Homo sapiens: one gene and its partners. The protein of the gene in region 4 interacts with the protein of the main gene of each other region in a pairwise test. Each region holds a gene or a part of one and is shown on either strand. Other genes may lie near its edges. The genes, in order: CCDC141, MOS, CDK18 and HOMER3.

The links.
Region 1: the proteins of HOMER3 (region 4) and CCDC141 interact in binary tests that used the Homo sapiens proteins (3 or more experiments, as listed by UniProt).
Region 2: the proteins of HOMER3 (region 4) and MOS interact in binary tests that used the Homo sapiens proteins (3 or more experiments, as listed by UniProt).
Region 3: the proteins of HOMER3 (region 4) and CDK18 interact in binary tests that used the Homo sapiens proteins (3 or more experiments, as listed by UniProt).

The regions. Positions count from the first base shown.
Region 1 is NC_000002.12:179,047,121-179,054,312, forward strand, and holds the start of CCDC141 (coiled-coil domain-containing protein 141), read right to left. Parts: upstream 3,018-7,192; 5' UTR 2,822-3,017; coding exon 2,720-2,821; intron 287-2,719; coding exon 164-286; intron 1-163. UniProt on the Homo sapiens protein: Plays a critical role in cortical radial and GnRH neurons migration during brain development. Regulates cortical radial migration by negatively controlling the activity of histone deacetylase 6 (HDAC6) and promotes centrosome maturation.
Region 2 is NC_000008.11:56,112,416-56,117,953, forward strand, and holds MOS (proto-oncogene serine/threonine-protein kinase mos), read right to left. Parts: upstream 1,568-5,538; coding exon 527-1,567; downstream 1-526.
Region 3 is NC_000001.11:205,500,418-205,507,681, reverse strand, and holds the start of CDK18 (cyclin-dependent kinase 18), read right to left. Parts: upstream 3,014-7,264; 5' UTR 2,886-3,013; exon of another isoform or gene 2,804-2,885; intron 1-2,803. UniProt on the Homo sapiens protein: May play a role in signal transduction cascades in terminally differentiated cells.
Region 4 is NC_000019.10:18,931,189-18,938,217, forward strand, and holds part of HOMER3 (homer protein homolog 3), read right to left. Parts: intron 3,223-7,029; coding exon 3,115-3,222; intron 1,858-3,114; coding exon 1,736-1,857; intron 945-1,735; coding exon 788-944; intron 438-787; coding exon 321-437; intron 224-320; coding exon 137-223; intron 1-136. UniProt on the Homo sapiens protein: Postsynaptic density scaffolding protein. Binds and cross-links cytoplasmic regions of GRM1, GRM5, ITPR1, DNM3, RYR1, RYR2, SHANK1 and SHANK3.

The DNA of each region.
Region 1 (7,192 bases), on a different chromosome or scaffold from region 4:
TCTGATGCTGTTTGTTCATAAATAACTACTGATTTTTCCATTATCTACCTGGTACCATATTAAAGTGGCCCTAGGCCAGTAACAGCAGAGGAATCAAGAAGTATAAGAAATAGTTTTTTATGTCTCTTTAATTTTGTTTCTGCTTCACATCTTAGTATCTTACCTTGAGCTTGGCCAAAAGAAGTTCATGATCATGAAGAAGTTTTTTGGTTTCATCTTGACTGCTGCCAATTTCTAGAAGATTGGGCTGTGATTCAGCCAGTTGAAGTTGTACCCATTTGCCACACTAAAAATAAAAATTAAATAAAATGCACTTTTAGTTCCTCTTGTTCCTTCCTCTTCACCCTTCTCATTTTTAATATATCGTTTAAATTTCCAGTTATACTGTAAACACTTTTTTCTATTTTCTATTTTTTTCCATTCTTTCCATAGAGATGGGGTTTACTTAAATTGAAACACAACAGATCTAATATAAATCCATGCCCTGTCTTTTATTTTTTATTCTTAGCATAAATTATTCTCTCTTGGCATATTGGATTTGAGTTAAAAATTCCCAAGTGAGGAAAACATACAATGGATTACGTATTATTGAATATTATAAAGTTACAGAATAATTTACACAACTGTATCCTCTCTCACTCACAAAACTGAACTCAATAAAAATAGTGAAATTCCACTTGGGCAGGTAGGATGCAAATTTCACCATGGGGAAAGTTCTTGTAAATGCAATTTAGGCTGATTAGTGTCTTTACATTGGCCTTGCTGGTTTAGCTGAAAATAATAAATATCAGATGAAGAAATTGATTTTTATCTTATTTCAAAGGTAAAATATGCTGTTTTCCAACCTTAGTTGTTGAATATTCATTAAAGCGTGTAGGAAAATATTAACAAAATTAGATGCCTGTGACAACTGCCATTTGAGCACAGTCAACTTGCTTTCCACACAAGATTTACACTGCTCTAAGATATAATTTGTCATTGCATTTCCTGAGGAATTGCTTTTCTAAGAAGCAACAACTCATTAAGCAAAATGAACCACTAACACGCATACGCATGTAGATACCTGAATTACTAAAGAGAAATTAGAAAAATGTATTTCTATTTTAGAATATATTCAGTCCCCTGAGACAGTTTGGACAGTCACTATAAATCACACACAGGCACTTCCATTCCATTAAGGTGGACTTTATACTCTGAATTGCTTGGGGTGTATTTTGTATGGAGATGGCAGTAAGGTAAGAGGGCTGAGGAGAGGGTAGTGGGGGAACATTCTTAGAAACACAATTCAGTTAAAATAAGAGTTTCCAGTGTAATTTTCCAGTGTAATTTCCAGTGTAATTTTTTTGTGTTCAATCTACCTCTGATTCTTCTGTAATTTATCCTCTAATATTATTCCTCATCCTGCTCCAAGAATGTTCATATTTGAGGAAATGGAAAGTTAACTTTTTGAAAAATAGTGAGTTTGCCTCTTTTCCCTCATTGCTGAAATCTGCAGTTAACTCAAAGTATCATTAATCCCGTGCAAATGATCTGTTTGCCCTACTTCTGCATCAGGCTTCTTTTCATCTCCTCTCTGGGACTCTGAAAAGATGGGAGGGTGAGGAAGTCAGCAGAGGCCTGGTTCCTGTGGGAGAGAAGTCTCACAACACCAGAAAATCCACCTCGGCAGGAATACTTTCCATTCTGTCCTTCTATAGTGAACTGTTTTGCTCAGTATCAAGTGCTCTTTTCCTGGTATGAATTTTCACATTACCATAAAATTCACAGCAATTAAGTTAAAGTAAACATGGCTTGCTGTCCATGCTCTAACAAAAGGCCAGAAAAGTCATTCAATTAAACCTGGTGGGGACCTGAAAGTAACTGGTTTGTGACCATCAGCTTGTTTGCCAGCTTTCCCTTCATTAAACACTGAATTATTTAGGTGGAATATCATCTAAAGCCCAAGCCTAGTGCTTGAAAGCTTTTTTTTACAGGGCATTTCCATGGAGAATAAAATCATGGAGTTCTTCTTCAGCCTAAAGATGTGTGGTCATCTTTGCAAATGGGCAAATGGGTTGTCATAAAACATGCAGTAATTGTAAACCCTAAGTGGCTTCTACTTCCTGCTGTTAAGAGCAAATTTGACACAAAGCTTTTGTACCTTTCCTTGCATGGTCTTCGTTACTGGACAAGGATTTAGTAGTTTCTTTACCATGTCAAAACCAGTGTGGCAAAGGGCACATGTCGGAGCCCTTTACTTGGTGTTTTCTGAGTTCCATCGTGCTTAAAGCAGTGCCCTCCCCCTGTCTGTCGGGACCTGCCTCCTCCCACCTCCATCACATCCACTCTCAAAAATCACAAGCATTCCACAGGTCCATTGGACTCTTTAGTCAGGCAATCATGAACTTCCAGTTACCAATGCCTTGCTTTTAAAGACCAAATTGACAGTATATGCTAGAGGTTTTCTTTTCTTTATTTTTCTTTCTTTTCTTTTTTTTTTTTTTTTTAAATCAAGCTGCTATAGATGCTTTCTGGCTGACTGAAAGGAAAGAGAATCTCTGGTAACTGCTGAAACTTGTAGAGGTTTCTCTTAGTAGCCCATTTTAGAAAGCAGTAAGAGTGCTTGCTGCGTTGTCTTCTCTATGCTGTGTCCTGCCGATTGCATGGAATGTTCTTTAGGGTTTTCAACACACAGCTAGAAGCCCACAGCCGCACAGAAAAAAGGAAGTTGTTAGCTTACCTTTATGACAGCTATAACGATTTTGGAGTCCCCAGCCTGCACAGCAACTGAACTGACTGTCGTCGTAGAAAGCGCAACACTAGGACTTCCTTGGCTGGACATGGTACTTTAGAACCAGAGTTTATACTTTGGGCAGCCTCTGGACAGTTGTGTGTCTGCTGGTCATTTCAGAAGGCCAGGGTTACTTGGATTCATTCAGGGAAAGAGCTCAGCTCACACTGATTACTCTGCCAAAAGGAAAGAACAGGAGGTTAAAAATAGACAACCCCATTGAGTTTATCGTGAGAGAGAAAGGAGCGAACGAGAGAGAATTGCCACGCCCCTAGTATGGTGACACTAAGTGCCTGTTATTTTTGCTGTTATCTTAAATGTGGAGGACAGCTTCAAGCTCTTTCCTTATCAGCTGATGTTTGATAACAAATGGAAAAAAAAATTACATCCTGACAACCCAAATTAGTTTTGCCACCGAAACTATGCCATTGTAACCATGGACTTTGAAACAAGTAAGTCTTTGACCTGGTTATCAATCTTTTCAAGATTTTTGAAATCTCTCTGATGCAAAGAGAACTACCAAAGTGTACTTTAAAAAAGTTTTGGTATTTGTCTTGGGGTTAAGTCACAAATTGCTTAAAACACATTTTTAGATTAATCTGCTTTTCTAAAACTTACTGTTCTTTGCTAAATGAAGTTTAGATGGAATAGCCACATTTTCTCAGAGCCTCAGATTTCTTAGGAATTTTTAAAAAATATTTCAACCAGCATTTATAAATAGGTGCCTATCATTTCAGATTTTCTTTGTGACTATTCTGCTCCATTGGACAAGGTTTTCAAGTTCAGTTATTAATACCATGAGAAAGCAAAATACTTTGCTGTTACCTTTTAATTGCAGCAAGAAAATGTTTTCTGTGTGGTTAAAAGTTATTAAGACATATATTTTGCTGCAATTAAAAACAAAAACAAAAAGGAAAGTACTGTGCTTCAGGCTTTTTATTCCCTACCCCCACCTCCTGTTCAGGAAAATTATAGCCAGCTTCAAATCAGTGCCCCACATTGGTAGATTAATCCTATTGCTAGAAACTCAGCCTGTGTCACAAGTTGTCTGTGGTATTAAACAGCAGCTGTTGGATTCCCTGTCAAAGAACAGCTGAAAATAACACTAAAGTTTAGGTCAGAAGTCAGATGCAAACATATCAGAGTTACTAACTCCAAAGCTGCTGGAAGCATTGGAAATCTCTGGGACAAAGCCACAACAGAGAATATAGCAAAAAACAGTTTTAATGAATCCACTTGCTCTGTAAACCTTTTAGCCCAATTTAATAGTAGGTTCAGGTTCAGGGCCAATGTTTAGAAGACTGAGTCAGCTCCATTGCTTTGTTTTGCTAAGGTTCATGATCATATTCTTGATTCAAAGGGGAAAAGTACTTTTACACATACTTCAGTGTTCAATTATTTTTGTTTCCAAGAGCATGTCATGGCTGCTCTGCAGCTGTGTAGCCACCACCCATGTCCTCTGCGCTCAGCATCTGCCTGCTGCCCCAGTGAGATGGAAACCATACCTAGATCCTAGTCCCTATGCAACACGAACTTCACCTGACCCCATGAAGGGAACAATTGGAGCGAGCTCAGGAAAGCAGATGCCGAGCAAGCTATGATGTAGCAACTATTGCAAATGGTTTCATTTTATGGCAGGGCTGGAGAGCTTGCAAAGAGGTAACTGACCTGGAAGGTTGCAGGCAGGCTCCTTCTTTCACTTGCATCTGTGTGAAGAGACCACCAAACAGGCTTTGTGTGAGCAATAAAGCTGTTTATTTCACCTGGGTGCAGGTGGGCTGAGTCTGAGAAGAGAGTCAGCGAAAGGAGATAGGGGTGGGGCCGTTTTATGGGATTTGGGTAAGTAAAGGAAAAAGGGGGGTTGTTCTCTGGCAGGCAGGAGTGGGGGGGTCACAAGGTGCTCAGTAGGGGAGCTTTTGAGCCAGGATGAGCCAGGAGAAGGAATTTCACAAGATAATGCCATCAGTTAAGGCAGGAACAGGCTATTTTCATTTCTTTTGTGGTGGAATGTCATCAGTTAAGGCAGGAACTGGCCATCTGGATGTGTACACAGGTCACAGGGGATATGATGGCTTAGCTTGGGCTCAGAGGCCTGACATTCCTTTCTTATATTAATAAGAAAAATAAAACGAAATAGTGGTAAAGTGTTGGGACGGTGAAAATTTTGGGGGATGGTATGGAGAGATGATGGGGGATGTTTCTCAGGGCTGCTTCGAGCGGGATTAGGGGCGTCATGAGAACTTAGAGTGGGAGGGATTAAGCTGAAGGAAGACTTTGTGGTAAGGGGTGACATTATGGGACTGTTAGAAGAAACATTTGTCATTTAGAATTATTGGTGATGGCCTGGATACAGTTTTATATGAATTGAGAAACTAAATGGAATAAGAGAGGGAGAAAAACAGGTATTAAAGGTCTAAGAATTGGGAGGACCTAGGACATCTGATTAGAGAGTGCCTAAGGAGATTCAGCATAGTCCTGCCGGCAAAGATTATTTATTTACTTCAAGAGTTAAGAGTGGCAGTTTGGGGATAGCACCAGGAGATATCAGCTGTGATGGCTTGGAGAAACAATGTAAACCAGCAGTGTAAACAAGAGCAGAGCATGTATAAGTAGTTGAGAATGGTGAATAGGAGTATGACTAGACAGAAGATAGTAGGGATGACAAGATTTTGGGGGCAAAATCTAAGTTGGTCTGGTGTCTGGAATGAGACTGGGGCTAAATAAAAAGGAGCGTCCACACAGGAGCTCAAATGGGCTGTACCTTGTAGCATTCCGAGGACAGGCCTGAATTCTGAGAAAAGAAAGAGGTAAAAGTATTGTCCAGTCCTTTTTAAGTTGGTGGCTGAGCTTAGTGAAGTGTGTTTTTAAAAGACCATTAGTCCGTTCTACTTTTCCTGAAGACTGAGGACTGTAAGGGATATAAAAGTTTCACTGAATACCAAGAGCCTGAAAAACTGCTTGGCTGATTTGACTAATAAAGGCCAGTCTACTATCGGACTGCGTAGAGGTGGGAAGGCCAAACCGAGTAATTGTGTCTGACAGAAGGGAAGAAATGACCGTGGTGGCCTTCTTAGACCCTGTGGGAAAGGTATCTTCCTATCAAGTGAAAGTGTCTACATAGACCAAGAGGTATTTTAGTTTCCTGACTTGGGGCATGTTAAGTAAAGCTAATTTGCTAGTCCTGGGTGGGGGCAAATCTCTGAGCTTGATGTTTAGGGAAGGGAAGGGGCCTGAATAATCCGAGAAGTAGTAGAATAGCAGATGGAACACTGAGATGTTATTTCCTTGAGGATAGATTTCCACGATGGAAAGGAAATGAGAGGTTCTAAGAGGCGGACTAGTGGCTTGTAATATAGGATAGCCTGCCTTTGCTGGTGTGTGGTGATTAGGCCTGGTGGAACTGCCATCAATAAACCAAGTGCGATCAGGGTGAGAAACAGGGAAGAAGGAAATGAGGGGAAATGGGGTGAACATCAGGTGGATCAGAGAGATTCAGTCATGAAGGTCAGGTGTGGTATCAGGAATAATGTGGGAGGCTGGATTGAAGTCCGGGCCATGAACAATGGTAATTGTGGGAGACTCAACAAAGAGTGAGTACAACTGAAGGAGCCGGGGAGCAGAAAGTATATGCATCAGGTGTGAGGAAGAAAATAGATTTTGGAAATTATGAGAGCTGTAGAGAGTGAGTTGAGAATAGTTTGTGATTATAAGGACCTCTAAAAGTATTAGGGTGGCAGCAGCTGCTGCACGGAGACATGATGGCCATCCTAAAACAGTAAGGTCAAGTTGTTTGGACAAAAAGCCTACAGGATGCGATCCCAGTCCTTGTGTAAGAATTCCAACTGCACAGCCCTGCACTTCTGCTGTGTGTAATGAAAAGGGTTGGGATGAGTCAGCAAGAGCTAGGGTGGGGGCAGTCTCTAAAGCTGTCTTCAAGGAATGGAAAGAGGAGTGGAGAAAGGATTTAGGATCTATGGGGTCAGCTAGGTTTCCTTTTGTGAGTTTATATAACGGTTTTGTTAGGATGGCAAAACCAGGTATCCAAAGGTGAAAGTATCCAACTATGCCTAGGAAGGAAAGGAGTTGTTTTGTAGAAGGGATTGGGGTTTGGGAGATTAGCCGGACACTACCAGCAGGGAGAGCACATGTGTTTTTATGAGAATTATGCTGAGATAGGTAACAGATGAGGAAGAAATTTGGGCTTGACTGAAGTAATGGGATCTGTCTGTGCAGCTTTGCGGCAGTACAGCCCAGGTAATTTGCTGAGCTTGATGGGTGTCAGGGTCAGTCCAGGTGAAAGCAAAGAGAGGCTGGGATGAAGGGTGCAAAGGAAGAGTAAAGAAAGCATGTTTGAGATCCAGAACAGAATAATGGATTGTGGAGGGAGCTATTGAGGATAGGAGAGTATATGGGTTTGGCACC
Region 2 (5,538 bases), on a different chromosome or scaffold from region 4:
TTATGATATAATTCCTTTGAATGTAAATGTACCTCAGTGTATGACTTTTATGAGTGAAGGTCATTACAAACAAGAAGTTTTACTGGGGGGAGTAGTAGGAAAGCATTACTTATTTTTTTAAAAGTTTTTACTGATTTGGTGTGGGAGCAACTACACCATTAATAGTTGGAATTTATGTGGTAGGTATGGGATATATATGGATTTATAGAAAATTTTGACATTTCTGCAGTGGAGTTCTATTTTGGACAAACTTTTATCAATAACAAATTTAAATAAATGAAATACTAGCAATGGAAAGCAAAGCACATGACTATATGAATAAGATTAGTTACTAACAGTACTGAGACAACAGGTACTAGACTTGTAGCTTTGCTAATGTGTCCTAGAAAAAGCACTGGAGACTAAAGGAGTTTTTAGTAACTTTATTTTCTAAAACTCCATCCTACAAATATGTTTTCTTCGACATCTCCACTTCCTTTAAAAACAAATAGAATCAGACAAAAACTTATCTTGACCAGGTTTTCAGTCAGCCGAGTTCAGCTTTCAAAGAGGTGAGATCCACCAAAAGCAGCCGCGCGCTCGGCCTCTGCGCCGCGCTGGGTCTCCAGCAGCGCTGGATGACGTCCCCAAGGCGCTGCCCGGGGAGCGAGTCCTCGAAGACGGCAGCGGAGAGGGACGGGCGCAGGTCGTAGGCCACCACCGCGTACAGTATGTGCTGCCGCTCCCCCGAATACGGCGCCTGCTTGGTAGTCATTTGCCAGAGAGTGATGGCAAAGGAATAAATGTCGGCTTTAGGCGTCACGCCCTCTCCTTTCAGGAGCTCCGGGGCGCGGTGGGTGTATGTGCCTCCTAGAGGGTAAGAGGGTGTCTGGAAGCACAGCAGATCTTCCAACTTCTCAGAGCAACCGAAGTCACTAATTTTACAGACATCCTGCTCACTGATCAAGATGTTCGCGGGCTTCAGGTCCAAGTGCACAATGCTTTGCGAGTGGAGGAAGAGCAGGCCGTTCACAACATCTAGTGAGTACTTGAGACACTTTCCCAAACTTAACTGTCCTCCAGTGCGGCAGTGAGGCTCCCCTGCGTCCCCCTCAGGGTGGCCGGCGGCGCCATAGATGACTTGGTGTAAAGTGACGTTGCCACCGAACTCCATGATGATGGTCCCTAGGCTATTGGACCCTGCGGGCGTGCGCGTGCTGGCAGCCACCACGCGCACGATGTTATCGTGGCGCAGCCTTGCTACGTTGAGCTCAGCCCAGAAACTCCGCCGAGATGCTAGTCGGTTCTTGGTGCACTTGTTCACTTGCTTTATGGCCACAGGAACACCGCGGTAAGTCGCCTTGTACACCGAGCCAAACCCTCCAGCTCCCAGCCTCTGCAGCAAGCACACCTGCTCCCAGTCAATGGAGCACCAGGCCAGCCGGCGCGGCAGCCGCGGGGCCCGAGGAAGAGTGGCCCCCAGAAGCAGCTTCGCAGGTAGCTCTGAGGGACTGCTGCAGGGCCGCGCGTCCACCGATGGGGAAAACTCGCTCCGGAGGTAGGGGCGTAGGGCCAGGGGCGAGGGCATCGCACTTTGCAGGGGGACACCAGGGCCGCTGGAGTGAATGAAGAGACTAGGGGAAACCGCGGGACTTTGGAAACATGACTGACTACTCCTTCGCTCCACCTCATCCCTTTTCTCCTTTTCCTTCACTTGTTCCAAATGAGCTACATCTGTGCTGTCACTCAGCAAGAGTTTTTATCAGATGGAGGGAGAAACCGGAATGAAGCACAGCTATCCCTTTCAGATGAAAGCATTTCCCTTCCACACTTGAAGTGAATTCTTATAAAAACAAGCTCATGCCAGACAAACAGCATGGAGCTGCCTCAGAACTCACCCCTCTTTTACATTATTTCTTAAATTATAATAAAATACGTTTTTTTCAAGTCTCATCCGCTGCACATTATCAGTCCTCAGACTAAAGAGACCACAAAGCACAATGAAATTGTTTCACACTTTGCAGGCTGTAATGATTGTTAGTGTCATTCTCCAGCTGCATTAAATCACTTCCAGCAGGTATTGGCTAAGAGTTAAAATGCAAACAGCAGACATTTGTTTAACCAATTACAGGGAAAAACTAGGTGCAACATTCATATGGATAAAAAATTGCAACCTTAATCAATCCAAATAGAATCACTGATACAGGTCATAACACACACCTAAATTCATCAGTGGAAAGGAGAATCCCCTGACACTCTATGCAGCTTACACAGCAAATTAGCAAGACATCTTAGCAACATACTGACTTCCTAACAATCCTTCCCTTCCAAGGCGATTTGGCCCAACCGGTCAGCTCACTTGCAAGAGAGATTCTAGACTTCGTAGCAAATGAGTTACCGAAGTTTTGAACCAGAGTTGGGGGAGACAAAAGAATAGAAATGATTCAGAGCTGTGATCAGGGCTTCAAATAATAACACATATGGGAGAATTGTAGAAGAGGAAAAATCTGAAGAAATAAAAATGGCACAAAATCACTGGTACCTACATATAATGTAGAAAACCAGAAGTTGGAATGAAATTCAGGGTATTGGCCATCAGACAATAAGATCTTTCTTTCTGATTTTTATAATGAAAATTAATTTTCTACCAAGTGCAGTGAGTTATGCCTATAATACCAGTGCTTTGGGAGGCTAAGGTGGAAGGGCCACTTGAGGCCAAGAATTTGAGACCTGCCTCTACAAAAAATAATAATAAAGTTAGCTGAGTGTGGTGGTGCACTCCTATAGTCCTAGCTACTTTGGAGGCTGGGGCGGGAGGAGACTTGAACTGAGGAGTTTGAGGCTATAGTGAGCTATGATCGTGCCACTGCACACCAGGCTGGATGATGGAGCAAGATCCTGACTCTAAGCAAAAAATTAATTTCATACCATATCTTTGGAAAAAGGACCAATAATATTACCATATTCATGAGAAAACACACACACACAAAAGTGTTAGGATCTATATTTTAAAAAATCAAATGGTAAAGTTCCCTTCTTCTAAAGCACTTATGTGTTAGGTTATGTGTAACCACATTTTAATGATAGCAGTTCTGTTTTTGAAGTATATTGACTTTGAGAAGGTAAATTAATAAACATGAACCATTTACAGAAACAATTTGAGGTCTGTGAAGCCCTGGAATAGGATTTCTATTCTATACAACCTGTGTGGCTTAGTATGTGATCTAGTGTGTGTATAATATTTAACCTGCTTGAGCCTCAATCTTTTTTTTTTTTTTGAGACAGAGTTTCGCTCTTGTTGCCCAGGCTGGAGTGCAATGGCACGATCTCCGCTCACTGCAACCTCCGCCACCTGGGTTCAAGCGATTCTCCCGCCTCAGCCTCCCGAGTAGCTGGGATTACAGGCGCATGCCACCATGCCCAGCTAACTTTTGTATTTTTAGTAGAGATGGGGTTTCACCATGTTGGCCAGGCTGGTCTCAAACTCCTGACCCCAGGTGATCCACCTGCCTCAGCCTCCCAAAGTGCTAGGATTACAGGCGTGAGCCACCATGCCTGGCCAACTCTATGGAATATTTTAGTAGAAAGATTGTTGTGTGCAATTGTGTCAAACCCCAAATATAAAAGGATGCCAATGAATAGAGAAAAAGTAATACAATTATATTCTATAATAAATCTACATTGCAAAATTTACTCAGTAACTGTCACCTAGTTAGGATTATAATTCAGGGCTCTGAAATGGTTATATAATAGGAGTGCTGTGAATATTAGCAGAATGAGAGTGCCTTAACCCCCTAGATATTACACATAATGCAAGATAATGTGACTTATTATATAATCTTTATTTTTAAGATAATTGCATACACAATTCATTTTCAAAGTTGGTTTTACTCTTTACCCAAAACATAAGGTATTAGTGAAAATGTGGCATTCTGTGTATTTATAAACCCCAAGTTCATTAGATCTATCATCTGCCAATCTGCCCAAGAATATTTAATTGAATATCCAATTTACAACAGCCTTTGTTTTCTTTTTTAAGGTATCTTAAAATATTTCTTTTACTCAGCAAATTGCACTTACCCTGAAAGCAGGATTTATCTCCCTATTGATTTTTTCTCCCCGTAACACAGTGCCAAACATATTTCTTATTATGTTCTTACTTTAATTTTGCTTTTTTCTTTTTGAGACAGCGTCTCACTATGTCACCCAGGCTGGAGTGCAGTGGTGTGATCTTGGTTCACTGCAACCTCTGCCTCCTTGGCTCAAGCGATCCTCCCACCTCAGCCTCCCAAGTAGCTGGGACCACAGGCACACACCACCACACCCAACTATTTTTGTATTTTTTTGTTGAGATGGGGTTTCACCATGTTTTCCAGGCTGGTCTTGAACTCCTGAGGTCAAGCGATCTGCCCGCCTCAGCTTCCCAAAATGCTAGGATTACAGGGCACTGTGCTTGGCCCTTAACTTTAATGTTTAATCCTGATTTGGTTACCAAATATGTGTGCACTATGTAATATTTTGGATCTCAAAAATGGGTAAAGCTTTAGCATGGTGGTAAAAGGCTATTAGGGGCCAGATGGCCTGGGTTTCTTACCATCCCAGTGCCTGTTTCCTTATCTGCAAAATGAGGAAAATATGCCCATCTCAGGATTGTTGTGAAGAGTAACAGAGTTTCAAATACTTAGATCAGGGCCTCAATGCTAATTATTATTTATAAAACTCATTTAAAAAACCATGTGTATGGGCTTATACGAATAAGAAACATATTTGTTAGGTAGTATTGGTTTAAAAGTATCCTATCAGGGCTGAAATAACTCGTTTTCATGTTAAACTAACATACAATTTGAGTATTTTTCTGCTCTTGAATTTTGCGGTTAAAGGTATAAAATCCTGCTGTATTAATGGTACAGCATGTAGTAAAAACGTGGGTGGAAGGTTAACACTAATCTGATCAAATGCAATATGCCTATGTCATCCCCCAAAGGCAAAGAGCAAAATGTGTTGATAACAAGGAATTCTCCTTGGAATTATATATGAAACAAAGGAGACAAGATAAACTGCACCTCCTGAGGAGCGAAATGCTCTCGTGTTCTTAGCGCACAGGCTTTACGTGTTTTGTTCTTTGATTGGCAGCATGACTATTAAGATACTTTCGTATCAAACACCATATTTATCACAAGAGTAACAACAGATACCGGAACGGATAGCTCCTTTTAATTTGACTTTAATCAGAGCCTGAGGATCGCGGATAGTGGGAGAACGTCCTCCTGACCAACGTGGTTGGCTTTCTGGGCACGCTGGGCCTGAGCCGCCCCAGCTCCCGGGGCGCGCACCGGGTTCCACGGGTACCGTGGACGGCGGGGCGCTGCGCCCTCCCTGCCTCCTGCACTTGCTGCGCTGGGGCCGAGGAGGTGGCTCTGCCTTTCTTGATTCCCCAGTCTCTGGAAGACAAGCCGCCCTCGCCGCCTCCTGGCTACCCGTGGGCTCGCCCTCGGGCTCGCCCGCTGGTGCTTTTGTGCGTTTCCTAGTGCACGGGCTTTGGGCGCGCTGGTGCCCGGA
Region 3 (7,264 bases), on a different chromosome or scaffold from region 4:
GCCAGGCACTGTGCATTATTTTTTTTTTTTTTTTTTTTTTTTTTTTTTGAGACGGAGTCTCGCTCTGTCGCCCAGGCTGGAGTACAGCGGTGCAATCTCGGCTCACTACAACCTCCGCCTCCCGGGTTCACGCCATTCTCCTGCCTCAGCCTCCCGAGTAGCTACAGGCACCTGCCACCACGCCTGACTAATTTTGTGCTTTTTTTTTTTTTTCAGTAGAGATGGGGTTTCACCATGTTAGCCAGGATGGTCTCGATCTCCTGACCTCGTGATCCGTCCACCTCGGCCTCCCAAAGTGCTGGGATTACAGGCGTGAGCCACCGCACCCAGCCTAAATCTTATAACAGCCCTCTATTATGATCCTCATTTTACAGATGAGGGAACGGATGCTGGGAGAAATTCACGAGTGTGCTAGTGAGGGGAAGGTCACATAGCTACTATATGCTGGAGCTGGATTCCACCAAGGCCAGAAGTTTGCCCTCCCCTTTAGTTCTCAAGCTCAGTTAGAGAAGAACAGAAGGAATCAGAGGACAGGTAGATGGAGATGCTGGACAAAAGTCCCAACAGGGTGATCCCAGAAAGTAGAGGCTTGGTTAGGGTAGGAACCGGGAAGAGTCAAGCCGGGCTCTGCCCTACAGTGTAGGACGCATTCCCGAGTGCGGGACGGCCCAAGTAGGCAGAGGACAGAGTCCGAGTCTGTAGAGGAAGCAAATGCACCCTGAAAGGCAGCTCCATGTCCTCTAGACCTGAGCGGGGGTTTGCAGGGCTGGCAACCTGATCCCACGAGATCTCAGACCAAGAACCTATTTGCTCCTCAGATCTGGTGCCCTCTCTCCTGTGCCCCATGGAGAAGCCTGGCTCTGCCTAGTGCAGGACAGACAGATGGGAGCCTCAATATTTGGAGCATCACCCCCATTCTTTCTTCTCCTGAGGACTGACGCAGACCAGAGAACTCCAGAGTGGGCCGGAACCTCCCCACAATGGGGCAGGGGTTAACAGCAGGGGCTTGGGGTCAGACGGAAGTGGGCTGGATCCCACCTCTGTGTGACCTTGGAAAAGTTGGTCTCTCAGAGACTCAGTTTCTTCACCTGTAAAATGGGGATGATAATAATACCTACTTCATAAAGTTGTGACGCACTGCTTGGCGCACAGTAGATATTCAACAAATGGTGGCCACTAAGGCTTGTCTACTCTGCCTCTGGCACCCCCGATAAGTTTGGGAAGAACTTCTTCTGGCACGCGTGGAGAGCTTCTTCCATTCTCCTGGCAGGGTATGGGGAGAGTCCTGGGGACCCAGTGGGGAGAGTCCTGGGAACCCAATGGTCAGGTACACCCCAGATTAAGGGTGGGGGAGGGGTCAGCCCCACAGCCTCCTCAGCTGCACAAGAGGTGGCTGGGAAAGGGTAACCCGAGATAGCAGCTTTGCTGTGGCAAGGTGACCCTCTCTCTGGAACGCCTTCAGGATGCAAACCCGGACCTGGAGCCAGTGTCGCCCTGTACTCCACCGACCCTCAGCACCCTCAGCACCGTTTTCCCAGGCCCCTCCCAAGGCCAGGCTAAAGGCAGGGGATCTCTGAGGACGTGCCAGTCCACCAGGCGCTCCAGGCATCCTCTCAGGCCCGTGTCCAGGAATGTGCTGCATGCCCATGCCCGGGTGGGGAATGCCACGCGAACATGCCGAAGCTCACTGGGTGCTGACACAGGAGGGGCAAGCCGGTGGTGTTAGTGAGTCACAGGGCCCAGGCTACAGCTGGGGAACTGCCGAGGGCTGGGCTAGGGGTGGGGAAGAAGGGGAGACAGTAGCAGATAGCGCGGAAGAGGTTCCAGGGCCTCTCACTCCCACAGTGTCAATCCTCCCACCCCGACTGCCGGGAGGTGCCCAGAGAGAATGAAGAGAGGCAGGGCTGGTGCCTAGGAGGGTGCTGACCCTGCAGCACAGAAAACCCCTCACTGTTTCTGCAGCCCAACTCCCACCCAGCACAAGGTCTGCAGACACCTTCAGGGAATCCCCGCCCCCCACAGGGCGAAAACAGAGGCCTCCAGTCCAGACCCGATTTTGGATTTCAGATTCCTGATGGTGTCCCTCAACTACAGCAGAATCCTCAAGGCACATCTCCTTAGCCCAACAGGTCACCGCCCACTCCCCCCGGCCCCACCCAGCCTCCTTTCCCTCTGCTGCATTAACCCTCTGTCGCCTGTTGATGAGGGGTGGAGGGGGGCACTGCCCCTTTGGTCTTCCGGGGTGGAAAGAGAGAAGCAGCAGCATTCCCCAGACCCCTGCCTCCCCCAGAACTGGGACCTGCAGGGCTTCACGTGTCCTTCCACGTTCTTCCCAGGGCTCCGGCCTCCCACCCCCTGCCTGCCGCTCTGGAAAGTTCACCAGAGCCCAGGAAGCCCTTCAAGGCAGCGATGTGGCCCCACACTCTCGGGTCCTTTGGTCCCTGGAGACTCCTGACCCTTGCCCTTCCCAGAATGAAGGGAGCTTAGAAAGCGCCTGGTTCCGGACTGGGTGGAAAACTTTGCTTTGTAGGGTTCAGACGGGAGCCCAGGGGCCAAAGTGATCCCAGATGGAGACTCCCTAAGGGGGCGCGGGGTCTGAGATTGCAAAATAACCCTCCCTCTCAAGCACCTGGAACTTACGAGTGGCCTTTCGAGGGCACCCCCCACCCCTCAACACACAACACAGTATCACACAGATCACGCCTCGTGATCTCTGCTCTCCCCTCGCCGCTCCGGTATTTCCCTCCAACCTCTCGCCTCAGGGCAAAAGCAAAACTGCGCCTTTAAGAGCCGTTCCGCTTACCTTTGCTCCTTATACCCGGCGCCGCGGTGCCCGCTCCTCCGACCTCCCCCTTCCTCCCAGGCGCACCGCCCGCGGGACTCACAGCGCGTGTCCTGGGGGCCGCGGTGCGCCCGCTCCCTCCCGGGCACGGGGCAGCTTCCCCTGCTCCGGAAAGGTGAGCAGTTCCCCAGAGAAGCTGCAACCTGAGCTGGCCGAGGAGGAGGTAGAAGGGGAGGGGAAGGGAGGGAGTGGAGGAAGGTGGGGAAGAGGAGGGAGGAGGAGGAGGAGGAGGAGGAGGAAGGAAAATGCCCGGCCCCCGCCAGAGTTTTTCACATGTACAAGTTGACTCCGCCCCCGGCCCTCCCGCCCTGCCCACAGCCGCTACCAATCCCCAGGGCTCCCTCTGCCCGGGTGCCCACCCCTTTCTCCCACTCTGGGAACCAGGGTCCAAGTGCCTCTTCCTGTTTCGTTTCTAAAACCGGCCCTGAGAGCCTTGGCTAGGGGATGAGGCCTTCTGGACTGGATCACCCCAGGACACCAAGGCGCCAGGGGTACACTGAGAGTGCCTGCCTGTCTCTAAAAGCGGTGCTCCTACCTCTCCTAGGTACCTCCCTGTACCTGGCGCCCTAGGAACGAATGTGCATGGACAGATTTTGGTGGTCATTTTCTTGACAATAGTAGCCCTCGGGCTCCCCTTCTACCCTATCCAGTGGGACTTGTCACTTACCTTTCCGGACAAAGTTCCCACCTCTCCAGGACCTGAATGAAGCCCTTGTTACCAGCCATCATTCACATTTCCCTCCCCGAAGGATAATTCAACTTGTCCTTTTGGAATTAAACTCCACAGGATATTTGAGAATCATCCAAGAAGGGTTACAGAATGGCTAGTTCAGCTAGTGGCACTCTCATTTTACAGAAGGGGAAACTGAGGCCCAGCAAAGCAATTGAACTGGCCTAAAGTGCCACAAGAGTTCATGGCGAGCCATGATTAGAACTCAGGCCAATGGCCATTGCACCCACATCATCTGACTTCAAGGATCAAAAAAAAAAACAAAACAAAAATCTGGGGATGGGGGTGAAGGGCACAGTGCCCCACCGCCAGGCCCCTCTCATCTCTGCTTCCTCCTGAGGGCTGTGAGGAGAGGAGGTGTGCCTTGGCTCTATGGCACCTCATCAAGGCAGTCTGTGTCCCCTGCCCTACCAGAGGGCTTGGCTGCTGCAGTCTGGGGTCTCCCACAGGGAAAGTCTCCTTAGGAGGGGGTGCTCCACAGTGTACATGTGCTTCTACCTGAACCCTTTCCCTGGGGACTGTGAGTTGTTGAGAATAGAACAGTTTCCTTCTGGAAGACATGGGCCTGAGGTCCCACTGTCAGCTGGAGACAGGAGAATGAAGGAAGACACTGGGCCCATGCATGAAAGTGACCTGTGGGTAGTTGACATCTCACAGAGGGCCTCCCAACTCTTTTTTTTTTTTTTACCTCGCTTTCTCTGCCAAGGCATGCAGATTTCCTGGGCACAGCACTTCCTAAAAATGAAACTGCCAAGTGTTGTCGGGGTGCATGGATCCAGAGCCTTTAGGTGTGCAGCAACCTCCTGGCTCTGTAGTCCAGTGGATGGTGAGAAGCCTGGGGAGCAGGAGGCCATAAAGAGGTTTGGAAGGGGCAGGGAGGGAAAGGGAGAAGGACTATGGCCAAGGAACTGTTTACTGGCGGATTAGAGAGAGTGGGGCCAAAGGGTAGAATTTCAAGGAACTAGGGGGGTGAAGTCAAGAGGTCTCCACAAACACTTTCTCAACATCTCTTATGTGCCAAATGATAGCCAGGGCTCTGGGCACATAAGATGAGTATAACCCAGTCCCTGCCTTCAAGAAGCTCTTGGTGTAATGCGGCAGGGAAGCAAACAGTTAGGATGCTATAGGAGGAGGCTTAGTGTTACGGATGCCTGGGAGGAGCTATTCTGCTTGAGGTGAGGGTTACAGGATGAGGGGACAAGAGAGAGGAGGAAGGATTTTCCCTGTTTTTTCCAGGAGGGGTAATCCCTTGTGCAGAGTGCAGGGGTGACAGAATATGGACCCACAGTTCCATGAGGTCAGAACTTAAAGTCTGGGGTGGAGGTGACACTGTAGAGGCAGGCAGGTGCTGGGTCCTGAAGACCCCCAACGTGGAGGCTGATCCTAGTGGAAAATGAGAATGAGCTTAGACCACACAGCGGCAGCAGGGAGGAGAGGAGGGAACTGATTTGAGAGATAGGTAGGAGACAGGGTCATGGAGCCTTGTGACTATTGGATTCTAGAAGATAAGGGAGCCAACAGTGTCAAGATTAGAAGCACTGATGTGATAGGCTGAGTGGGACCTTGGAGCTTCTTAAGTGAGCCTTGATTCCCAGCACCTCCTTAGATTGCTCTGTGAACTTGGGCAAGCGAACTAAGCTTTCTGAGGCCATCTGTAGAACAAAGTTGCTAAAATCAATCTTGTATGGTTGTTGTACATATTAGGGTAATGTATGCTAAGGGCCTGGCATAGGACTTGGCTCATAATGGAGAACTCAATAGATAGTAAATATAATTACCATCATTCATGCATTCAACAAACATTTATTGAACACCTGCTATGTGACAAGGACTATACTGGATCCTTGCATTGGATAGATGATTTTAAGTCTCAGTTCCTATTCTCATGTAGTTCACTGTTCAGGTGGAGAAAGATATGCAGAGGCAGTCACCTACCAAGGCAATATGGGCTGAGCAGAGGAAGAAGCCCTTAACTCTGCCCAAGAGAATTTGGGACAGCTCCACAGAGGAGAGATGACAGCTGAAATGATGTAGGGCCAGCCACCTGCTCAGAGCCTGTCACATCACCCCCTGCCCCACCACCACCACATGGGATTGCTTCAGAATCTCTGAAAGCTTCAGTTTTGAAGCATCGTCTTGGTTCTCAGGGTTGAAGGAAGAGGATGAACTGCAGGTGGGCATCTATATGGAGCCCAGAGAATGGCACAACAAGCTTTGGCCACCCCAGGAAAGGGCAAGTGCAGATGGGAGGTGGGAGGGGGGAACCAGATAAGAGTGACCCTGGGCAGGGCTTACTAGCTGGATAGGGAGTCCATGATACCCAGTCATACACATCAGTGGCCTGTGTATGTGTGCTCTTTGGGTCAGCCTAATTTTTCTGCTTCTCATCTGTACCATTTCAAAAATTCCCTCTGAACCCCTTGGTGTCCCCTGCCCTCCGATGCCAACTTTCTTTCTGTGCATCTTGCAATAAGCCAAACACAGTAGAAGCAGCACTACCTAGGACTTCCACTAAGGAGGGGCTCCTTCCCTGCTGCCTTACCAAGCAATACTTTGAGCTTTAAAGCCATGTAAACTGTGTGACCTTGGGCAGTTACTGACATATCTGACTTCCTTTCCTGTCCATAACATGGAGATGGTAATAGTCCCTCTCTCATGGGGCTGTTGTGAGGTTTCAATAGGATGTAAACTTGGCACCCAATCAATGCTGTTTCTCTTTTCTGCAGCCCATTAACTCCCTCCTTGCAGAGGGACAGACAACAGACCCTCAGCTGGGGGTTTCCCTGGCACCCCAGCCCCTGGGGCCCATCCCCTGTGGGTCCTGCAGCCCCCTTCCCCTCTGCTAGTCTAATGGATCTGTGGCATCCCCGGGAGGCCCTGGTCACCCTAGCCATGTAGCAGTGTAATGCTGGCAGGCCTGAGCAGCATGACAATGGTGGCCCCAGCAGCAGCTCAGCCCACTGCCCACTCTGCTCCTGTCTCCTCCTCGCTGCCAGTGACATGCCACTGCTCTGCAGATAGGACAGGCGTCCCTGGGTGCCTGAGGGCTGAGCAGGGAAGCTGGAAACAGCTCTCCCTCGCAGACTGTGTGGGCAGTGCATTTGAATAGCATCTGAAAAACCAAAGTTCAAGCCCGCCCCACTTTCCCCTGGGAGGCACAGCATCCAGACAGGGAGAGTTCAGCCAACAGAGAATCTCTTTTCTGCACATTGTCAGGGGCTCCCTTCCCCTCTGGCCCTATATCCGAGCAGGCACAGTCTCTGAAAGCACTGCAGGGACATTTGGGAGGCCGGAGACTTGACTCCGCCCCTAAGGTGCAGAAATCACTTTGTTTCTCTGGGCCTCTGTTTTCCTCTATAGCAAAAGGGGAATAGTGTGAATACCTATCTTTCAGGATGGGAGAACTAAATGCAAAGGTGACTGTGAAAGTGCTTTGCACACTGTAGAACGACCTGCATGTGTATGAGATCATTAGTGTTTGTCCAGAGGGCCCTTTTTAGGGTTCCAGGAATCAAGTAAAGACATGAGAAATGAGAAGCTAAGTGAGAACAGAGAAACTCACCTCAACAGCCTGCCCTTGGCAGGCAGGAGGGAGATTGGCAGCAGAGACCTGAAGATGGACTGACCCATTATGGCCTAGCTAGTTAGAGGTCTGTGAGTCATTGGGACAGCAGGACTTGGCTAGACTGAGC
Region 4 (7,029 bases):
CGGCACCTGCTGGGCATCAGGCCTTCCACAGGACTGGGCCTCCCAATACTTTATCATCTTAGGTAGATATTGTCCTGAGTGTCTGTTGAGGTGACTGTCACCCACCGTCACCCCACCTCCTTGTGCCCACACACACCTGCACCTTCTGCTGAGTCTCCTCACGCTCGGCAGCCTCCAGGGCCTCGCGGGGCCCCCCAGTCTGACTCTTCAGGGTCTGAATCTCCTAGAGGAGAAGAGTTCCCAGGGTCTGTTGCGGGGGTCCTGGCTTTCCCACAGGAGGTGAGGGAAGGCGAGGCCCAGGAACCACACTTGGCACTCACCTGGTCCTTGGTTTGCACCAGAGCTTCCAGCTGTTCCAGCGACTGGCCCTGGCCCAGCCCCTCCTTCTCACCGGTGGGGGTCACCTCTGAAGCTGCCTGAGCCTCCAGCTCAGCCACCTGTAGGGCAGGAATAGCAGCCCCTGACGCCCCCGCCTGCACTCTCCCTTGCTCGCCCAACCTCTAGGGAATCTGCCTCCTGTCTGGCCACGCCCAGGACCGAGCACCCATCTCCCTTGGTTGGTGCCACCACCCCCCTCTGCACAGCTTGGACTTTAGTGTCTGATCACCCTCTGAGGCTGGCATTGTCTCAAACCCATTTTACAGAGCAAGAAACTGAGGCTGGGTCAGTGACCTGCTGAGGTCACACAGCTAGTCCATGAACCCAGGGCAGATGGGAACTGCCGAGGCGCGGTCTCCACAGTTGCCCGGGCCAGGTGGGGGTCTCTCGGAGGGAGGGGTGCCCTCACCCGCTGCCGCAGCCGCTCGGCCTCTGCACGCTGAGCCTCCAGCTGCTGCCTCCACTGGGCTGCGGCGGCGTTGGCCTCTCGCAGGGCGCCTGCCAGCTTGTTGTTGCTGTCCTGCAGTGCGAAAAACTCGGCCTCCCACTGTACCTCGCCCACGGAGCTGCAGAGACACGAGGGTCGGCAGTGGGTGACACGGGGCTGGGGGGCGGAGTCGGGCGATGCTGGGCTAGGGGGCGGGGCCAGGGGTGGGATAGCTCTGGGCTTAGGTCAGGGCGAAGGCTGGCGAGGGTGCGGAGTCGTGCGCGAAGTTGGACTAGGGGGCGGGGCAGGGGTGGAGTGGCACTGGGCTGGGGGCGGAGTCAGCGGCAATGCTCGGTTAGGGGGCGGGGCCAGGGTGGGTGGCGCTGGGCTGAGGCGGAGTCACGGGCGATGCTGGGCTAGGGGGCGGGGCCAGAGGAGGGGTGGCTTTGGGCTAGGGCACGGAGTCAGGGCCACGCAGGGCTGGGGATGTGGCGACACTGATTGCTGAGCTTGGGGATGGGGCAGTCCCGCAGAAGCGGGGTCTTGTCGAGGACCGAGTCAAAGAAGGGGGCACGTGGAGTCCGCCCAGTGACACTGTGGGAATGTTGAGGGAGGGATGGGAGGTTGGGGAGAGTCAGCCGATGGGGGCGTGGTCAGGGTGGTTATCCTAAGACCAGAGAGGCATCGACGGGGCGAGGTTAGCAGCGAGAAGAGACAGGGATGGGGTCAAAACAGAGGGGCGTGGCCAACGCAGGGTAGGGGCGGGGTCGGCTCTGGATGGGGCAGCATTCAGATCCTCATCCCCTTCCCCAGGTCTTGAGTCCACAGTTAGATCCCGCCGTCCTGGCACTCCCTTGGCTTCCAAGAACCGCCTCCTCGTCCCCCACCCCTACCCCCGCCCCTGCCACGCCCCCAAGTCCCGCCCCTCACCCCTCAGACAACATCTTCTTTAGCCGCTCGCGCTCTGTGGGGCCGGGGGCATCAGCGCTCTGGCTGCGGAACAGTTTTTCCTCGCCGGGGCCGTTGGCACTGACGAGAGGGCTCGGGGGCACCTAGGCACGGGGAAAAGAATAGGTCACGACCCCACATCAGCTGGGATCAAGGCTGATGTGACTGGGGTCGTCACATCGGGGGTGCAATTGACCTATGCACCCTAAGCAGGTCCTTCACAGCACAGGATCCAAGTGTGTCCCTCCCCACCTCACCCACCCTCCATGGCTCCCTGTGGCCCCTAAGCTGGGAGTTCCATGCCCACGCCCTCGACCTTGCCTTCCTGGGCTTTCACCACCCCCAGGAGCAAGTCTGATGCAGGTTAGTCTAAACCAAGATACTTAGAACCTGTAAGGTAGGGGAGGGGTACAATCGGACACCTCCCTGCTGTTCCCTTCCCTGAGGCCGAACTTCAACATCACGTTTAGGATTTCAGCAGGAAGCCCTGCCCAGGCCGAATTCGTGTTTCGTGAGCAACCCCACTGCCTGGACCACTGGCTCTGAGGGTAGACAAGCTGGCGGGTGCCCTGCGAGAGGCCAGCGCCACCGCAGCCCAGTGCAGGCAGCAGCTGGAGGCTCATGCTTTTTTTCATCTCTCCAACCCCTGTGCACAGCCCTCGGCCTGGTACACAGCAGGTGCTCAATAAATAATGCTGAATAAATTAATGTGGGAAAACACGCAGGGACAGTTCGTTGTTCTGCCTCACACTTAGCCATTTCTTTCTTTCTTTTTTTTTTTGAGACAGAGTCACACTCTGTCACCCAGGCTGGAGTGCAGTGGCACGATCTCGGCTCACTGCAACCTCCATCTCCTGGGTTCAAGCGATTCTCCTGCCTCAGCCTCCCGAGTAGCTGGGACTACAGGCGCATGCCACCACGCCTGGCTAATTTTTGTATTTTTTAGCAGAGGTGGAGTATCACCATGTTGGCCAGGCTGGTCTCGAACTCTTGGCCTCAAGTCATCCTCCCTCCTCAGCCTCCCAAATTGCTGGGATTACAGGCGTGAGCCACCGCACCCGGCCACACTTAGCCATTTCAATTTCTAGTCTTCCATCCTGCCATCTGAGCTGGTTTTGCTACTGGGACCTACTGGGTGTACCCCACCGGCCCCAGGCAAGGTCCAGACCCTCTATGACACACTCCACACCACTCCTCTGTGGTCCCTGCTGTGGGTCTAACCTTAGGTCATCTGGAAGCATTGGGTCTTGACGACCAGCAGAGTGCCCCGGTCTCCCAATATCAAGGTCCCCCAATATCAGTTGAGCGCCTGGCTGACTCACAGGTGCCCAGGCAGGCATAGGGGAGTAGGGAGTGCTGACCTGGTGGGAGGCGAGCCCCAGGGCTGGACTGGTGAGCTCCCCGCCATCCTGAGATTTCTCCCTGGCCAGCCTGGCTGCTTCCTTCACTTCCTGGAACTTCTCGGCAAACTAAGGGAGTGGGGAGGAAAAGACAGTAAAACCCCAGCCCATCCTCCCAAACAGGTCACCATCACTCAGTGACAGCCCCGCCACTTTCGAACCGTACCCATCCCCTTATCACACACCTTGGAAGAAGGAGAGAAACTTTGAAAAATGATGTACCATGGTGGGTGGGCAGGTGGCATCAGATCACAGAGGTGGCATTTAAATACATTGGGCCACATTGAGAAAGGGAAAGGAATTCCCATGTCCTCTTTTTAGGAAAGGGTCTCACTTTGTCACCCAGGCTGCAGTACAGTGGCATGATCTCGGCTCACTGCAGCCTTGACCTCCCTGGCTCAAGTGACCCTTCCACCTTACCCCTCCACCAAGGAGCTGGGACTACAGGTGTGTGCCATCATGCCCGGCTAATTTTTTCTAGAGACGGGGTCTAGCCATGTTCCCCAGAATGGCCCTTTTCCTGTTTTTTGTTTTTTTTTTTTTTGAGATGGAGTCTTGCTCTGTTGCCCAGGCTGGAGTGCAGTGACATGATCTTGGCTCACGGCAGCCTCTGCTTCAGCCTCATGAGTAGCTGGGATTACAGGCATGCACCAGCATGCCTGGCTAATTTTCATATTTTTAGTAGAGATGTGGTTTTACCATGTTGGCCAGGCTGATCTTAAATTCCCGGCTTGAAGTGATCCGCCTGCCTCAGCCTCCCAAAGTGGTGGGATTACAGGCACAGCACCCAGCCTTTTTTTTTTTTTTTTTTGGGGGGGGACAGAATCTCGCTTTGTCACCCTGGCTGGAGTGCAGTGGCACCATCTCAGCTCACTGCAACCTCTGCCTCCCAGGTTCAAGCGAGTCTTCTGCCTCAACCTCCCGAGTAGCTAGGACTACAGGCCCGTGCCACCACGCCCAGCTAATTTTTGTATTTAGTACAGATGGGGTTTCACCATATTGGCCATGCTGGTCTCGAACTCCTGACCCCGTGATCCACCCACCTCGGCCTCCCAAAGTGTGAGAATGACAGGTATGAGCCAACATGTGGGGTCCCTTTTAATCTTTATCAGGGCTATTTCAACAAAGAGAGCCTCAGGTGGGTGCTAATCTGTCTTTAACACCTGTTATTATTCCTTTATAACAAAGAGATTAGGTCTCAGGCTCTGAGAGACATCAGAAGTCAATGAGAAAGTAATCATCTCATTCTTGTTTTTGTTGTATTAAATGTTTACATGTTTACATTTACCACCTATTTATGACAAAGCAATACCAGTTTTCCAGTTAGGATAGGATATGTTTCCCCCCACCACCCCGGTTTTAAAATAAATTTCCTTAGTTTAAAAATAATTTTTTAGGCCGGGTGCGGTGGCTCACACCTGTAATCCCAGCACTTTGGGAGACCAAGGCGGGCGGATCATTTGAGGTCAGGAGTTCGAAACCAGCCTGGCCAACATGGTGAAACCCCATCTCTACTAAAAACACAAAAATTAGCCAGGCATGGTGGTGGGCGCCTGTAATCCTAGTACTTGGGAGGCTGAGGCAGGAGAATTGCTTGAGCCCAGGAGGTGGAGGTTGCAGTGAGCTGAGATTGTGCCATTGCACTCCAGCCTGGGTGACAGAGCAAAACTCTGTCTCAAAATAAATAGATAAGGCCATGTGTGGTGGCTCACGCTTGTAATCCCAGCACTTTGGGAGGCCGAGGCAGGTGGATCATGAGGTCAGGAGTTCAAGAGCAGGCTGACCAACATGGTGAAACCCCATGTCTACTAAAAATACAAAATCAGCCAGGCATGGTGGCACATGACTGTAATCCCAGCTACTTGGGAGGCTGAGGAAGGAGAATTGCTTGAACCGGGGAGGCGGAAGTTGCGGTGAGCCGAGATCGCACCATTGCACTCCAGCCTGGGGGACAAGAGTGAAACTCTGTCTCAAAAAAATAAATAAATAAATAAATAAATAAATGATTTTTTAGGCTGGGTGCAGTGGCTCACACCTGTAATCCCATCACTTTGGGAGCCTGAGGCAGGCGGATTACCTGAAGTCAGGAGTTTGAGACCAGCCTGGCCAACATAGTGAAACCCTGTCTCTGCTAAGAATACAAAAATTAAAAAAACAAAAATTTTGTAAAAATACAAAAATTAGCCAGGTGTGGTGTGTCTGTAATCCCAACTACTTGGGAAGCTGAGGCAGGAGAATTGCTTGAACCTGGAGAGAAGAGGTTGCAGTGAGCCGAGATCGGGCCACTGCACTCCAGCCTGGCAACAGAGCTAGACTCTGTCTCCAAAAAAAAAAAAAAGACCTAAATTAGAAAGGTAAATTGTTGGGGCCGGGCGCGGTGGCTCACACCTGTAATCCCAGCACTTTGGGAGGCCAAGGTGGGTGGATCACGAGGTCAGGAGATCGAGACCATCCTGGCTAACACGGTGAAACCCCCGTCTCTATTAAAAATACAAAAAAAATTAGCAGGGCGTGGTGGCAGGCGCCTGTAGTCCCAGCTACTAGGGAGGCTGAGGCAGAAGAATCAGAAGAATGGTGTGAACCTGGGAGGCAGAGCTTGCAGTGAGCCAAGATCGCGCCACTGCACTCCAGCCTGTGCGACAGAGCGAGACTCCGTCTCAAAAAAAAAAAAAAAAGTAAATTGTCTGGGTGCAGTGGCTCAAGCCTGTAATCCCAGCACTTTAGGAGGCCAAAGTGAGAGGCTCGCTTGAGGCCAGGAGTCAAGAACAGCCTGGACAACATAGTGAGATCCTATCTCTAAAAAAAATAAGATTAAAGATATTAGCTAGGCATGGTGGCATACGCCTATAGTCTCAGCTAGTCAGGAGGCTGAGGTGGGAGGATCCCTTGTGCCCAGGAGTTTGAGGCTGCAGTGAGCCATGATTGCACTGCTTCACTCCAGCCTGGACAGCAGAGCAAGATCTTGTTAAAAAAAAAAAAAAAAAGAAGGGAGGGAGGGAGGGAAAAAAAAAGAAGAAAGGTAAATTCTAAACCTTCTAGAAGAAAACAAAGAAAGCCTGGTGTGGTAGCTCATGCCTGTAATCCCAGCACTTTGGGAGGCCGAGGCAGGTGGATCATCTGAGGTCAGGAGTTCAAGACCACCCTGGCCAACAAAATCCCATCTCCACTAAAAATACAAAAATTAGCTGGGCGAGGTGGTGGGCACCTGTAATCCCAGCTACTCCAGAGGCTGAGGCAGGAGAATCGCTTGAACCCGGGAGGTGGAGGTTGCAGTGAGCCGAGATCGTGCCACTGCACTCCAGCCTGGGGGACAGAGCAAGGCATTATCTCCAAAAAAAAAAAAAAAAAAAGAAGAAGATCTTCGTGAAAGCACTCATCATCAACAAAACCACGGATAAAGATAATAATGGAAGTATAGAGACGGCACAGGGTGCAGGGAGGTGAGGATGAAGGTATTGCTGGGGCATGTGGGAAAGTGCCCAGCCCAGCCCAGCCACCCATTTGATGTCCCAAAGAGGAGCAGGGTGTGTCCAAAATTAGAGCTACAGGCAGTAGAACTAGGACTCAAGAGCAGGTACAGTGGCTCATGCCTGTAATTGCAGCACTTTGGGAGGCCGAGGCAGGCAGATCATTTCAGGTCAGGAGTTCGAGACCAGCCTGGCCAACATGGTGAAACCCTGTCTCTAATAAAATACAAAAAATTAGCTGGGCGTGGTGGCGGACTCCTGTAGTCCCAGCTACTCAGGAGGCTGAGGCAGGAGAATCGCTTGAACCCGGGAGGCGGAGGTTGCGTGAGCCAAGATCACTGCAGCCTATCTCAAAAAAAAAACAGAAAAATGAACTAGGAATCAAACCGGGGAAGCTTAAAGGGGCTTC